Linked DNA regions of Homo sapiens: all the other regions are linked to region 4. Evidence: fine-mapped expression QTL. A gene starts in region 4. Each other region holds a variant in brackets. All regions are shown on one strand. Distances are from middle to middle.

Evidence for each region. PIP is the estimated chance that this variant, and not a neighbour inherited with it, causes the effect.
Region 1: its variant is the best candidate, but not a certain one, in a credible set for the expression of NRP2 in T cells (TOPMed, PIP 0.84).
Region 2: its variant is the best candidate, but not a certain one, in a credible set for the expression of NRP2 in whole blood (TOPMed, PIP 0.65).
Region 3: its variant is the best candidate, but not a certain one, in a credible set for the expression of NRP2 in whole blood (TOPMed, PIP 0.80).

The regions. Positions count from the first base shown.
Region 1 is chr2:205,070,082-205,074,249 of GRCh38, reverse strand. The region is part of intron 4 of PARD3B (par-3 family cell polarity regulator beta); the gene reads right to left. Among named protein-coding and RNA genes, the nearest start is that of PARD3B, 530 kb to the right of the region's middle. The variant G/A (reference allele first, on the strand shown) is at 1,723.
Region 2 is chr2:205,710,328-205,714,495 of GRCh38, reverse strand. The region is part of intron 2 of NRP2 (neuropilin 2); the gene reads right to left. Among named protein-coding and RNA genes, the nearest start is that of NRP2, 30 kb to the right of the region's middle. The variant C/G (reference allele first, on the strand shown) is at 1,692.
Region 3 is chr2:205,867,757-205,871,924 of GRCh38, reverse strand. No RefSeq gene overlaps it. Among named protein-coding and RNA genes, the nearest start is that of NRP2, 190 kb to the right of the region's middle. The variant G/A (reference allele first, on the strand shown) is at 2,233.
Region 4 is chr2:205,680,363-205,684,530 of GRCh38, reverse strand. NRP2 (neuropilin 2) reads right to left here and starts at 2,030. Exons shown (of 17, transcript NM_003872.3): 1 at 1,168-2,030. The coding sequence starts at 1,240. RefSeq lists an enhancer at 1-35 and a silencer at 2,510-2,629.

The DNA of each region.
Region 1 (4,168 bases), 610 kb after region 4:
GTCTTTGTTTTTATTCAAATAGACAATTTGAAGATTAGCAAAATTATTTCAGAAAGTGCTATATGAATCAAGCATTTTGACACAAATATTCTCAATACAATCTGAACTTATAAATGAGAAGCTCTAGGAATGAATGGATCCAACTAGAAAAAGATACATTTAAATAAAAGAAGCAATGGATATTTAAAATAAGCTTTTAAAATGTCCACTAAGATTAGTCATACAACAGCCTTACCATTTGTCTAATGGGACTGAAGTGCATTTTGTAGAGATCCTGTTAATAAGATAAAGAGGAATATGTGTGGGCTAGGTTGTTCACATGTATGTATATCACAAGAATCAGCCCTACAGCTTCAATTTGTTGTTTATAAGCAGTGAAACTACAAAACACTGGGGATCATTGTTTATATTCCTTATTTGGAAATGTTTCAGGTTTTATATTCAACACATCTTTCCAATAATAGCTACAGATGTCATACATGTGCCTAGGGCTTTTTAATGGTTTCCTGTTCTAACGCCTGGTGTGAATTGAACAAAATATGGACAATCCTTGCCCTTTTAGGGAAAGGGGGAAAAAAGCAACAAAGAAACATAATCAGGTCTAAAAACAAGTTTATCCTACTTTGTACAAAGAAAACAGAAAGAGTCTGGGGAAGATAAACTAATTTCTACCAGTTTCTGCCTACCACATATACACTAACTCAATTTAGATTGATTTGATAATGTCTACAGACTTACTTTCAAGGTTACTATATACATTTGGACTTTTTTTCCCGAAAAAATAGCATGAGATGAAATGTTGTCTAGTTCCATTTAATTTTATTTCAGTTTTATCTTGGTTTCTTACTTCAAAGCAAATAAGACAAGTTTTTCGACATCTTTTCAAAATTTACCACAGCAGGACACCACCAGAACCAATCTTCTTTATATAGAATAACACAACTTTAAGCAAAGGGATGGTGATTTTTAAAACACACCCTGATTTACAGGAAAACTGCTGTTTACACAAGAGGGGAATAAAATAGCTTTATTTTACATTTACATTTTTTAAGTGGCCCACTTTAATTCACACAAATAACCATTTATTCAGCTCTAGGGTAATAGAAAGGTAATTGGAATAGTAACCAAAAAACAAAATCTTAGTTCTTTATTTTCAACTAACTGGCTTTTTGCTAATAATGTTTGTATTAAATTTCATGGATACCGTTTAAATGTTTAAAAGATATATATTAAAATTTATGAAGATAGGACTTAGGAAAATCACTTAATCCCTCTGAAATTTAATTTCTGCAGTTACTGTATATCATATACTGAGCAAATTGAAGAAAAACAGGACATTTCTATCCTTAAGGAGCTAATGGTTTGACTCTCATACATAAAATTTTAATTCTAATCTATCTCATTGCATGTTGGTTTTTAAAAGTTGGTATCGTCGCTTTTACTAAATAGAATTAGTATAACTAAACTAAGAAGTATGGCCATAGCAAGTAGTGCAAATTATTTTTTAAACAGTAAATGAATGCAGTTACAGAGAAGGATATTATTTTCTTCCTCATTATTTTCAATTTTTCTATTTAAAATAAGTTTTACCAAGAAAATGTTATTTAGACCTTAAAATATCCAGATTATACTGTACCATAGTTGTGAACCACTGATATGAAATAAAATTTAATTGTCTCCACCTATACTTTAATCCTCAGCTGGGTGCCGTAGGTCATGCCT[G/A]TAATCCCTGCGCTTTGGGGAGGCCACGGTGGGTAGATCACCCAAGGTCAGGAGTTTGAGACTAGCCTGGCCAACGTGGTGAAACCCCGTCTCTACCAAAAATGTAAAAATTAGCCAGGCGTGGTGGCGCACGCCTGTAATCCCAGCTACTTGGGAGGCTGAGGCAGGAGAATCGCTTGAACCCAGGGGGGCAGAAGTTGCAGTGAGCCAAGAGTGCGCCATTGCACTCACTCCAGCCTGGGGGACAAGAATGAAACTCTGTCTCAAAGAAGAAAAAAAAAAAAAAAGGACCTGAATTATTTTAATTATGAAGTCCAAATACAAGTTTATAAGAATGTAAGCAGTCTTTTAATGTGGAATTTTTGATCATATTATTTAATGCCTATGATTTATTAATGACAGGAATACCATCGTCAAACTATATCTTATTTCTTTACAACAAGATGAATTAAAAGTGTGATGTTTACTATTATGTGAGACTACATATATTTTTAAGAAGAAATACAAATAAGAACTCATAATTTATAGCTTTTAAAAAAAAGCTAATTCACAGAAAACATGAGTCACACAAGCACAAAAATTGCTCAAACAAGTGGCTAAATCTGCTTAAAATGTAATGACCAGTGTTTTGCATTTTTTGTTTTTTTTAAGATAAAATTTGGATCTATAGACAGCAATGTGAGAGTACCAACAATTAGAGAGAGTGTGTAAAAGTGGCAGTTATGTTTAGGAAGACAGAAATTCTGGATAACAATAATTTATTTTAAAAATTACTATGTGTGTATCTCTGTATACACACACACATACGTGATACACTACAAAGTGAAAAGATTCTTATTTCAAATGACTTTACATGTTAATGCTTTGATGGTACATCTTTTGTTGTCTGTACTAACAGCAGTGCTGTTATTTAAAAACATTTACATTGTAGAATAAATCAAATCCATACTTACATTAAAGTTAATAGCACTCAAGACTCTCAAGGTGAAAGAGAAGCAATTAGAAAATCAAAGAAATTAAACTCAGTGATAAAACAATTATAGACATTGATTTCAACTCTGGATTTTAAGTGTATATATTCACATATTTTCCCTAAGTCTGGCCAGAACATGATACAGAAGTAATTTGTTCTCAGGAACAAGATGCACACCTAGGACCGGAGTTTGGTTTCTAGGACCATTCTCTACAGATCTTTGGCGAGAAGAATGGCGGCAAGTGTGGGGCAATGAAGGTATATAGTGATCTTGGGAAATCTTGCTGTTCCATAAAGGAAGGAAACTTGTAAGAATTAATACAATCATGTCAAGAACCCAGAAGCTAGTCTGAAGGAGCTTCTACTCAGCAAAGCTGAGACATCAGAAAGAAAGATCATGGGTGATTTGCACACACTGTATTTATGAAAGGCTGAGTCCACAGTGATAAGAAAGAAGCCAAAGAAAAATCTTCTGTCATCATTTGACACTTCCAAGAAACAAATTTACTTTGAAAACTGGCCATTTAAAACCCCAAATTAAGTGGTTTTTTTTTTTACATTAACAGTATGCACTTTATTTCCAGGTAATCAAATAGCCCCAGTTATAGAAAGCTGTGGAAAGCTCTACATTATAAAAGAGTGCGAGCAAATGTAGAAGAAATGAAATAGTTAAAAACTGTTACACTGCAAAACTTAATGAAATTAGTATTTCAGCATAAAATTGTTAGTTATAAAAATATTGACAGTAACTGGACGTAGTGACAAAGTTAGTTCACAAATGATTACCTATTGTTTCAAGTAGAACATATTGATGCTTGCAATGGATGGATGAGTTTGTCACCACCTTAACCCAATAATCAAATTTAGGTTACTAATGGCGAAAAACAAAACAAAACTTATTATGTATCTTTTGATCTTATACATAAGAAGTATTGCTATATATCACCTATGATATAGTATTGCTAAAATGTTTAACTTACATTTAAGCAAGGCTTTAGTACGACTTTCAGCTAACAGAACCTACAGGGACAAGAGGAACAATTCAAACAACTTTACAGGGAAGCAATTAAATTCATGCAAAATGACCTGCTCAGAGACAACTGGTTGGTTTTCTGCAAGTCAATGTCATGAACAAAGATTATAGAGATGTAAAAGACATAGCAACTAGATGCAGTGTTTAGTCTTAGATTAAATCCTGATTTAAAAAAACAGCTGGAGAACTGGGGAAATTCTAATGTGGATTAAGTATTGATATTAAAAACTGCTAATTTCATGGGGCACGATAGTGTTATATTTACAATATTAAAAATACTTATTGTTTTAGATACATATTTAAGTTTTAGGGGTTGTATGTCATAGCTTCTGTCTTGCAAGTAGGGTCCTTTTGCAGACCACTCACTAAGCAACAGGGCTGAGAATGATTTCACAATCACATAGCAAATGGGTTAAGGAACAGGCTTGGAGAAATTTAAG
Region 2 (4,168 bases), 30 kb before region 4:
CCTCCGTGCTATTTTCACACTAAGGCAAGCACTGCTGGACAGACACATTCCTGTGAGCAATGGTGATGCCCTGGCAATGTGCACAAAGGTTGAGAGGCTCTGCTACCCATGTTCATTAATCAGACAACTCATCTGGACTAAGAAATGCATGGCCCAGAGCGCAAGAGTCCCAATCCCAGAAGCAGACAGAGCTGGGCTTGCACCCCAGCTTGGCCACTTTTTAGCTGGGTGACCTCAGGCAAGTTACTGAACCTTTCTGAGCCTCAGAAATGGGGAGAAAAAGAGTAAAGTAGGGATATTACAGTCTTCTCCTAGGGTTGATGTGGGACTTAAATGACAAAATCTAATCTATCTAAAGTGTTAGTCCATAGTCTGGCACTCAGTGAGTGCTAAGTAAATGTGAACTGTGATTTGTTGTATTTTCACACCCATTTCACAGGCAAGGAGGCTGAGCCACAGAGCAGAAGCGACCCTGTTTTCAGAAATGGAACAAATGAGCAGAGGTGTAGTATCAGCGGGAATGGAAATCTGTTCAAACATTCTGAAAGGCATTTTGGTGAAATGTGACAGAAGTTAATATGTACATAGCCTTTAATCCAGCAATCCTACTGCTAGGAATTTTTCCTAAGAAAATAATCAGACAATTGTGCAAAGATGCATATGCATCTTTGTGCATATATTTTGAAAAAATATAAAAAGTGGGAGGATATTTTGCTTATAAATGGTTTCAAAGCCCAACCGTAGAGGGAGGGTGAATCCATCTGGGATATTTATAAAATGGAATACTCTCCTGCTACAATCAATAGTCTGCAGGTCTAGAATTTTTTGTTTTTATGGAAAAATGTTCACGCTATACTGTTAACTTTTTAAAAAGGAGATTTTTTAAAAGTATGTTTTAAAAGGTATACATACATTTCCTCACATAAACATACAGAGGAAGTCTGAAAGACTACTAAAATATGAACAATGGCGACAGACATGGGTGGTAGGATAATTGGTAATTTTTTCTCTCTTCTTTGTAAAAGAATCCAGCTGTCATGATTTAGCAGATGTAGAAGGAAGTTCATCATCATCACCATCATCATCCATGTCACAGAACTGGAGTGAGGAATAAATGAGACACAGTAGGTCGGGACATCTGGAACAGTGCCAAGGACATGACCCACATTCAATAAATAATTTTTTAAACTTTTTTTTTAAAGCTTCACCAGATAGTTCCAGTCTTTGTGTTGCCAATTTCTCTAGGAAGGACAAAGAGAGGCCCTGCCATCCCACTGGCTTGTTCATCAGAAGTGAGAGGGTTTTATCTGGTTGCCTAATCACCCATGGAGTCATTTAGGGGATTAACAGAATCAGCAATGAAGCAGGGCTGCCCAACAAATGCCACTGTTACAAGCTTGCCTCAATTTACTCAACGGATACAGACCACCCCAAATCCCTTCTTGTAATGCTGCCTGCAACAAATACATCCTTATGTATCTAACACACATATAGAGAAGGGATGCATTTTTGAAAAAGCTTCATATAATTCAATCATACTATAAATTTTTTCTCTGAGCTTGTTAGTTAAAGGACCCCTCTGCTGAATCCTTTTGTGAAGCAAATAATCAACAAACCTTACTTGAACTTCTTAGAAAAACTAGATTTTTCTATAAGGTTTGCTTGAGGGGAAGTGACACAGAGTTACAGTT[C/G]GGCAGCTGAAATCCCCCCAACTTCCAGTCTTCTGGTTCTGCCCTGTGGACAAGCCCCACTTAACCACATGGTCTTCTGGCTGGGCCTTTTATATAAAGGGCACACTCCAAATGACATGCTGACTTCATACAGAATGTCTCATTTACCTCCTGTGTGACTGACTCATTTGGGGAAATTTTTTATTATGAGGGATTTGCTACAGCTGGAGTAAATCTCCTTAGAAATTTCAGTGTTGTCAGGTTCATTTGTGAAGAGTTAGGCAGAGGCTTAGGAAGTTTCTGGCTTTGGAATAAATACGGCTTTGCATCTAGTGTCTAATATCCAGTGTTTGGTAAAGGAATCCGGGGTACAGACTCAGAGCTCACCCCAACGATAGTCAAGTAGGATAACTTGAAAAGCTGCTCCTCTTAGAACGTATCACTCGTTTTCCAGAAGGCAACATAAACCAGCTAACAGACATATTAACTAGAGTGTTTGCATTTCATTATCCATAATCTCTCCTAAACGAAAAATTCCTTTCAAAGCTTTAACACTACCTTGTATTGTTTTATTTATTTTTTTCCTGAGCTGAAGTAGCCATCTCTACTCCCAGTTCTTTATTTTCTCTCTAAAACGGTTCCCCGAGTGCCTTTTTATTTGTCTCCTCACAGATTCTGAAGTCTGCATGGTGAGCATTTGTCTAGAGAATGCTTTCTCTACTTTCTTTCTCAACTTCAAAGTCTTACATTTCTCTCCCCAAACCTACATTTGGGCCATGGGAAATTTTGACAGTGAAGTTAATTTTAAGAGTCCACGGGAGAGATATGAAAAAGCAACAATCTCATCTCTTCCTCTCATCACTAGGCAAACATGAAAAAGGGCTTTCTAGTTTCCATAACTGTCTCCACGCTTGACACTTCCCAGCAGGGCACCAAAGGCTGGGTTAGTCAACGGAGCCTGTGCTGGAAGATTCACCAAGCTTAGGTCCTTCTCTCAGGGCACCGAAATGTCTGGCCCTTGTCAGAATCCAGCTTTAGGGATGCCACACAGAACCACTTGGAAGGGGATTTCTGTATCGAAGATAGAGTACTTAGGTCTTCGGAGGAAGAATACTCTGCCCCTTCTTTTGGGTCTACGTATCAGAACATCTCTGCCCAAGTCCTGACATCATAACCTTTGCCAACCAAGCAAGGCCTCCTTTCACACTGCTCATCATAAGATCATAAGATGTTGAAGACATTTTGTATATGGTGAGCTCTTTCCAACCCCAGGGCCTTTGCAAGCGCTCTTTCCTCTGCCTGCAGTACTCCTCATTGGTGCTTTCCAGGGCTGGTTGTTGCTCATCCTTCAGGCTTAAGGACAAATGTTACCTCCACAGAGAAGCCTGCTGTCACCACCCTATTTCAGATGGCATGCCCTTATTCTCTATCTCACCATCATCTTACTTCTTTCATAGCTATGATTATAATCTGGAAAGGTCTTGTCAATATACCTATTTGTTTATGATCTGTCTCCTGCACCAGACAATAAGCACCATGAAGGCAAGGACCTTGCCTCTTCACTGCTGAATTTACGACACTTCCCTGGTGCCTGGCATGTAGGAGGTCTCATTCACTTTTTGTTGAGTAAATAAATGTAAATGAATAAGGGACTTCAGGCTGGTGTTCCATGTTGAGAAGAATGCGTGCTACGATGATGCTTTCCGTGGAGTTTGATCCATTTTATACTCTCTGTCTTTGTGCCCCAACACATTTACTGAGCTATTCTGGTTGTATCTGAAAACCAAAATGTTGCCTTGTGACTCAAAAACATGAAATATAACATTTTGAGTGGAAGAAACATCTCAAATCATGCTGACAGCATTTTCACTATTAGCGGCAAACAAATCAACTATAATTAAAATGCTGTCAAAGTGATTTGAGATTTTTCTCACACTTTCAAAGTTCCATATTTCATGAGTAGATTATCCAGGCCAGAGAATTTATCACCTCCTGGAGTGCCTTTCTTCCAGGAGGCTCAAAGACATCTACAAACACTGTCTTATTAATCCTTACATTAAAACCTGTGAGGAAATTAGGAGGAAAAAAAACAGCACTGTCACATACAACTTCCCAACAAAGAAGCTGCACGATGTCTAAAAAGGCTGCAAGGCAGATCTGCACAATGCTGAGGTCTCTGGTCGGTTCAGGCCTGAAGCCAGGCCACCTGCTCCTTAGGCTCAGTACAGTCACCTAGCCTTTATGGAGAAGTCAGCTCACTGTCAGGTCAGACTTTTTAAAGTAAATTTCATTTCCTTGAATTTCTGCCTTGCATCTGTACCACCCATTTACTAAAAAGCTGGTATATCTGCAAACTGTTCACATTTTATTGAGCATTTACTATGGGCCAGGCCATTGATTCAGATATTATTTCATTTAATCCTCATTTCATCCAAACCAGGCCCTGTTACAATTACCATCCATTTGCAGATGCAGACATCGAGGCTCAGAGCAGTTAA
Region 3 (4,168 bases), 190 kb before region 4:
TCTGGATTCGATATTGTAGTAGACATTGGGTTGTACCACAGATTCCCCTTCAGTGAAAGACTTGCTGCCTGCGCTAGCTGCTAGGAATGCTGTTGACAGGCAGCCTCCAAAGCCAGTTCTTCAGAGAGTCTTCATACAGTTCCTGGACAATGTAGGAGTATGAAGACATGGCCATCTTGTGTCAGATATCTGATACATTGCAATAGCAAATGCATCCCCCTCTGCTGGTGTATATCCCAATAATCCGCCAGCACCTGATTTTACAACTAGATCGGACCACTGAATTGTGCCAGGGGCTCAGTGTTCCACTGTCCACAAGTGAGTGCTGGAGTCTCATTGCCAGCCAGATGGGAAGTGATACAGTCCCAAATTCTATCTCTTCTCAAGTTTTCTCTTACATTGGTGGTACTGATTGCTGCAGGTTGGGCTCCTTGGGAAGCTGACTCCAGAGGGAGTTGAGCGTGGAGTTTAGCATGTAGGAGGTTTATTAATGATGGTCCCCAGAAAGGAAAAGGAAGGAAGCAGAAGGGCACAGAGGGAGAAATTGAGCTGCTGCTGCAGGCCCAAGGACAGCCTCGGCTCAAGTCAGGTCAATTCTGGGAGCTAAAATGACTTCAGAGTTATCTGAATGGGGACGAGATGGCTGGGTCTGTATACTCCTACACTGTCCAGTAACTGGATGAAGGCTCTCTGAAGGACAGGTTTGGAGGCTGCCTGCCCACAGCATTCCTAGCAACTGGGCCAGCAAGTCTTTGATTAAAGGGGAATCTGCATGGTGCAATTCAGTGTCCACCAAAATGTCCAATCCAGAGATCCTTAAACTGTATTAAATGAAGAGTTCTTATGTGGCTCCTTACCTGCATGTCTATTGAAGTAAGTGGCTACTAAAATTAGAATTAATTGTGTGTCTCTCAGTTCTACTAAACTGAGTTCTTTGAAGGGTGGGACTTTGTCTTATGTATTCTGTATCTCAGGTCCTGAGCAAATGGTCAAATGCCTGGGATTAGACACATAGAAGGTGTTTAAGACTTGTCTGTTGTTGAACGTTGAGTAGGTTTTATGGTTGACCGTCTTTGATGGGTAGATAGGCTTTCGGGAGTACCATCGTTGGTCATGAGAATCCAAGCCCATCACTAGAATGCTTCTCCTCATTTGCAATCCTGGTAAATTAATTCAGCAAATGTTAATGATCACTTGCTAAGTGCCAGGTATGACTCTAGATGTTACAAGAAATGTGATGAACAGGATACCATTTTTGCCCTCAATGGGGTGACAACTTTAAAGAACAGGACTCAAAGGAAATTAGAGCTATATCAAGTCATATTTTGAGATTCATCAGGAAATTTTGATCTCTTGGTTGGACATCTCTGAGCTGATTCTCATAATTCTAACTGTCTGGATCCAGGCCAGGTACATGTGATAGGCTGGGCCAAAGTCAGTGGAAGAGTTATGTTTAGCTGAGAAATGAGAGAGGGTAGAACACCACTCACTTCATCCAACATAGGTGTCTTTATCAACACATCAAGAAGAATCTGTGCAGTTTGAGCCTATATAGCAATGTCTTTGATGGTGTTAAGTAGCAGTACACTGAAGTATAACACAGGCTTTGAGCATAGTGGTTTATACCTGTGCTGTTCAATATAGTAGCCACTGGCCTCATGTGGCTATTTAAATATTCAATTAAAATTAATTGAGGTTGAATAAAATCACAAATGTAGTTCTTCAGTTGCACTAGTCACATTTTAAGTGCACATAGTGACATGTGGCTAATGGCTACCCTATTGGACAGAATAAATTTTAGAACATTTCCATTCCTGCAGAAGGTGCTATTGGATGGCAATGATTTAGACTATCACTGGCTCACAGAACATTAGAGCAGGAGCTGTATTACTCAGTTATTAGATTGGGACACTGGGACCTGTAAAGCAACTAAGACTGGGATCACTTGAGTCTCAGTTCAATGATTTGATTCTTTGTTTACAGACTTCTTTCGGTTCATAGGCATGTAGATCCTCTTTAATAGTCCAAGATACCTAATATTAATATAATACAAATTATCCTTCCATGCCTCTGTCCTTCCATCCATCCATCCATCCATCCATCCATCCATCCATCCATCCATCCATCCATCCTTTCCTCCTCCCATCCCCCAGCACACTCTACTTTTCATTCTACCTGTACTGGTTACATTGACTGGGACTATCCCAGTCAATAAGACACAATTCCTGGTGA[G/A]AAGGAGATTATGTAAAACCTAATAGAGGACTTAGAAATATGATGATGCAATATGATTGGTGCTGTGGTTGAGGTCAGAGCCAAGTGCAGAGAGCCCAGAGGAGGTAAGATGAATCCTGGCTTGGGACAGGCATTACAAAGGAAATGACATTGAATTTGAGTGCTGAAGGATGAACAGGAGTTTATTAGGTAAGAAAGAAGAGAAGGCATCTAGGAAAAGGGAGCAACAGGAGCCAGAGTGTGAAGGCATGCAAGTGCACTGAGCCTGGGGACAGTGACAGTTCACTGTGGCCTCGGTGTGGCTGTGGGAGGGCTGGGGGTGTGGAAGCAATGCTAGGAGACAAGGTCTGGTCCATCTGTATGAGAACTTGTATGCCAGGCTGAGAGGTATGGGCTTTATCTAGCAGGCAATGGGAGCCTTTGGAAATAAATAAGAAGGAGAAGGATGTGAGTGGATCCGTGTTTTAAGATCAGTCTTTGGAGATGTAGGGAATGGACCAGGGGTACAATCAGTTCATCTCCCTGCATTTGTCCAACATGGAATCAAACTCCTGAATCTTGCGCAATAATGATGTTGTTACTTTCTTCTTGGAGTTATATCACAGTTAATTCCCTCCAGTTAAACATTGTAAGCATTTCTGTCTTACTTTTGCTCCTCCTCTTTCTGACTCATTACCCACAGGACTTCCCCATCAGCCTCCCGCTAAACCACACTTTCTCCAGCATCAGGTCACATGGGAGGTGGAAGGGAGTATGGGGGAGAGGCCAAGAAGCAGTCGCCACCACCATCGGAGCAACCCGAAGCATGTGTAGCCCTAATGCCTGTGTCCCTGGTGTCCTCTGTACAGCTCATTGAGAAACGCCGCTCCTGCTGTTTCCCAGACACAGGTGGATCCTGGGATGATGGAGGGCCATCCTCACTCCTGCCTGGAAGAGAGCTGAAGTCATCCACAGGGAAGAATGAGTCCTTCCTCAACTTGATTTTCTCCAAGAAAACTTAAGGAATGGAGCAGCGAGGAACTTAGAGAAACCGCTTACCCAGTGGAAGAAAATTAGGCTGTGTCCCCATCCCCTTCTCCTGAGGAGAGAATGCTTTGTTGGGCTAACAGTTATGTTGGACTAACAGCTATGACAATATGCAATTAATAGTAAGTTTCTTTGTAACAGATAATAGTCAAAACATCTTGAAGCCCATTCACAGAGACAACTTTGGGGGAAGCCTCGGCTGTCCACACACACATCGAACACTGTCATTAAGCCCTCCTGGAATGACAGTAGCTATAGTTCATTATCCCGGGTGGTGGTTGTGGGGGGTACTCTATTCTTTACATTTTCTTTGAGAAAAAAAATGTCTTTTAAAACTTAATTTGCAACACAACACAGTCACATAAATGGAAAAGGATGTGGCCTGATGATTCATGAAGGAACCCAAATGATGAGGGGCTGTGCTAATTTCTGACAACTGAGTGATTTATTTCAAAAGAAAGGCCCTGCACCCCCTAATTGGATACTTCCACTGGCTAGATGAGCATGAGTTTCTCAGCAGAATTTTACATAAATAAAATTAAGTCATATCTTTGTCTGTGGATAGACATGCTGAAACACATCTCTTAAAAACCCTATTTATTTTTATGAATAAAAATAAGCCCAGTCTTTTCATTTCAATCAACATCAAACATTGCAGTTACTGATTCAACATCTATTCTGTCTTCTTCCTTATGAAGGAATCATATTTTGTTTAGAGCAAACGTGCCTACTTAAAAATCTCACAGGAGTGGTCACTCACGCTTGTAATCTCAGCAATTTGGGAGGCCAAGATGGGAGGATAGCTTCAGGCCAGAAGTTTGAGACCAGCCTGGGCAACTTAGTCAAAACTCATCTCTACAAAAATTTTTTTTTAAAAATTAGCAGGACATGGTCACTCATGCCTGTAATC
Region 4 (4,168 bases):
GCAAGGCTAGGATCCACTAGCTGATGTTCTGGGGATGCCAAGGAGGCTGCAGAGTTAGCTCTACCACTGCCGCCATCGCCTTGCAAGTGCCTTGGGTGAGGGCACTTCAGGAAGGCTTTTTCGCCTTTCTTTCACCCATTTCCTCCATAGATGGTTTCTCCATCTCCAATCACCTGTAGCAGCTGCTAAGAGTTTTGTTGTTAGATTCCAGACACTGTTCTCAGAGGGGTAGGGAGGCTCACTCTAGAGAGTGGTCCGAGAAGGAAGCACAAACCCCACTGCATTCCCCATGGATTCCCCTTTCCAGAGCATACCCCTTGCCGCTCCCCACAAATGCGGTCCCCAGACTGTTCTGGGCCTCGAAATGCTTATCTCCACAGCAGCCTGTCCACACACCCTTTTTGGCAGTGGTTGAGAACAAATTCCACTCAAAAGTTTCTAACCACTTCACAAGAGTGAGAGACCTTCGAGGGCCTGCAATTTGTTTTAGCTAATAATAATTTCTAAAAGAACGTACGATTTACTTTCCCAGACAACACATGGATGAAGAGAGAAGAGACCAACCGTCTTGGTTGCCAGCAGCACCCAACCCCAAGCCCCTATCTCAGCCACAAGCCAACTTGCTCCACCAGCCTGAGCCTTATGATTCTGAAGCATAACCAGTCATTCTCCAAAGAATCTACAGCATCTGAAAACCAAAACTAAACTCTTGTCTTTCCCAAGCCCTTCAGTTAACATTGCTCAATGTAGCTAAGTGGAGGGAATGCAAATGATTTATATTTCACTGGCTAGTTGGAGAAACTCAAGGGAGATGTGTTCTGCTTCAAGACAGGGAAAAAAAATTCCCAAAAACTGTAATGCAAAGGCTTTGTAGTATTTTTAAACCTTTGATTCAGTCCATATGTGACATATGAACACCGCCAAATTCTGTTTCAAAACACACTCACACACACACACACACACACACACACACACTCCTAGCAGGAGAGGAAAGTTGGGTTTTAGCAGCCGTGGTGGTGTAGGAAGGGCCGGCTGGGATCTCTCTTTAAATTATTGAGTACTGAGGGAGCCTTCTTCTGTGCCGTTCTGCGTGGCCTTCCTGCTTTAGCGGTCACTTTTAAAGGGGAAACCATGTTGCAATAAATAGAAAAACTTTCAGTGGCTTACCTGGTTGGCCTCTCACTTGGTGTCTTGAAAAGTAGAGGGCTAAGAAAACCCAGGTGAGAGGAAACATATCCATTTTGGAGAAGGTGGCTCTTTCCAGAGCTGGGTTCGTAGGTTTCTTGTTTAAATCTTTGTGTTTTTCTCTCTTTTATTTTCCTCCTTACAACGTCTTATGCAGAGGTTTCTAATGGTCAGCGTTTCCCTCCTGAGTCCTGGTGGCTTGTCTTCACCTCTATTCTTGCTGGAATTTCCACCTCACCAGGAGGAGAGTAGCTCCTGAAATCAGCAAAGAGGGAACAAGCCGGGAAGAGAACACGGTTTTCCTCTTAAAAACAAAACGCATATATGTTCTCTCCAGTTCCTCAAAGTGTCATTTCCTTTATCCTACAAATATCACGAGTATTTCCCGAAAGCCAAGCGTAACAATAATGATAATAATAATAATTAAAACCAAGACTTGCCTTGGGCATCACACGGCCCCCAGGCAGCTGTGTGATCTCAGAGGCGTAAACTGACACACATCCCGCGGCACCCTTGACGGACACACGGGCGGAGGCAGCCGCCGCCGGACAGCCCGAGTGGAAGGCGGCCGCCCTGCTCTTGTCCTCGCCGGGTTCCCCCGGCGGGAGCCTCCCCCAACGGCTACACCCGCTTGGCCAGCCTCTCGAGGGGAGTCTGAGGAAGGAAGCTGCTGCTGCTGTTGCTGCTGCTGGTGCGGCGGCGGTGGCGGCTGGGATCGCCTGGGAGTGAGCGAGCCCCTCTCCGAGTTCGCTGGCGCCCGCCCTCACCTCCACCTCGCCGAGTGTCTGTGCGGCTGAGGATGTGCTGGGGGCCGGCTGCAGGCTGGTGCCTCGCTCGCGATCTCTGCCTCCCCTCCGGCTCCCCACTGCCTTTTCAGGCCGAGCAGCATGTGGATGTCAGAGCCGCGGCAGAGCTATCCGATTACGCGCCGGCTCAGGGCCCGCCCCTTCTGTGTTCCTGATTAAAGAGGCAGCCGCGGAGACGCGCGGCGCAGAGCAGAGTGCCGCGGCACCCAGCTCGGGCGGGGCGGCGACGGCTTCTCTCGGGCCGCCGCAGGATCGAAGTTAAGGCGGCGCCCATCCCACCACCCCTCGCCCGCCCCGCATCTCCCGATCGCCCCCGCGCACCTCCGCGCCGGGCCGCCGGTGCGTAACGCCCTGGGGAAGAAGCGCCCCCGGGCACCCCCAGGGCGCGCCGCCTTGGCCGTGTCGCCCCCACCCAAGGGAGACCCCGGGGGGACGGGGGGAAAAGCCTTGTTCCCCCTAAATTCCACGACTCCGATGCCACACACGCAGAACCCAACACAATGCCACGCGCGATGGCGTTACAAGAGGAGTTGGGTGGCGTACGGTGTTTGGGGTAGCGAGCCGGTCGGCAGCTCAGCCATGCGTTCGAACAGGCAGCGGTGCGTGGCGGCGACACACACCGTCAGCCCGGTCTGAATAAAACCCCAAACACTCGCTGCGTTTACTACTCAGATCCTTTGTTATGTCCCAAACATGCTCTGCTCCTCTCTGGGTTAGGATTTCGTTACCCCTGCGCCTTTAACTGTAACTACCCTAAAAAGAGGAAAGACTTTCTTCAGCAAATAATTTCTTCAGGTAATTAAATTGGATTCCATCAAGTTCCCCCGAAAAAGTATAGGTGCTTGAAGGCGTCTCATCCAAATGCTACTGTAACTACGTCTATTCACATTTTCCCCCATGGAAACGTGGTCACAAAGCCTAGAGAAAGAAAACATCATTATGCCAACTATTTTTAAATGGAGGCGTGAAAACTGTTTAGAGGGAACTGCAAGCTAACAGTTGGGGAAACACTTGTATCTTTGTTTCTGAGGATGGCTTTGTGGATTCCAAACTGTCTTGCTTCACCAGACACCTATTACTACATTATCATAAAGACTGCAACAGAAACAGCCTAAATTACACCCTGCACATGTACACCTTTTCTGCCACAAAAGAGGTATATGAAAAATAAGAAAATTCAGAAAAATATTTACAGATTAAGATTTTTTTTAAATTAAGAAAGTAAAATTTTCTGTAGATTAAGAAAAATACAGTTTCGGTGACGAGAAACACACACCTGACTACCCATTTTCTTCTTGGCTTGTACTTGTGGATTCTTCTGGGTGGTTTCCCTCCTTATCTGGACTTGCCCATTAGCTTTATCACTTTTAGTGTTTGAAAAATCTGTAACTCCCACTTAACTGTTATTTACACTGAGATAACCAAAACAAAATTGAATCAGAAGTGATTTGCAAATAGTTGAGCCAAGCTGTGTTGGGGGGTGGCGCGGGATTTTAGAGTGGAAATCCACAGGCTGAGTATCACACTGTTAATCTCAGATGCCTGGTTGGGAAAGGCACAGCACAGAGGCCTCTGAGTTCTTCCAGGGAGCATGTCTCTTGGCTAGCCTAAATGCTACCTTTCATTCCCTCTTTGCCTCCCTCCTTCCTCTTCCTCCCTCCTTTCCTTCCTTCTTCCTTCCTTTCTAGGCTTGAGAGCACATCCACATTATTAAAAACTCCAGATTTACATTTCTCCTCTTTAAAGCTCAATTGTAAAGAATGACTCCAAGCCTTAAATATTTAACAAAGTAAAAGAGCAGTTTGGATTATTAACCTTAAGCAGAGATCCCGGTTTATGTCATTGCCAAGATGCTAATCTAAGGACAAAGAACGCTATCTGTAGTGACAGTCCCTGAATAGAGAGGGCCATTTAATATCACCTCTCCCCACCACTCACCAGGCATGCCAAACCATTTTTGCCAGTGCCCAATGTGGGAGACTCCTGTTTGTGAGAATAATGTAGCCAGGGTTTAGGTGAAGGGCACTGTGAAAGGGGGAAAGAAGAGAGAAAAGGTAAACCTAAGCCCACTGGAGAACCATAAGAATGACAACCCTGGACTTCTGGTCTTGGGGTCTCAGGGATGAAGGTCCCCATCAGGCTGCTTCCAGAGTAGAGAAAAGTAAGAATCAGTTTTG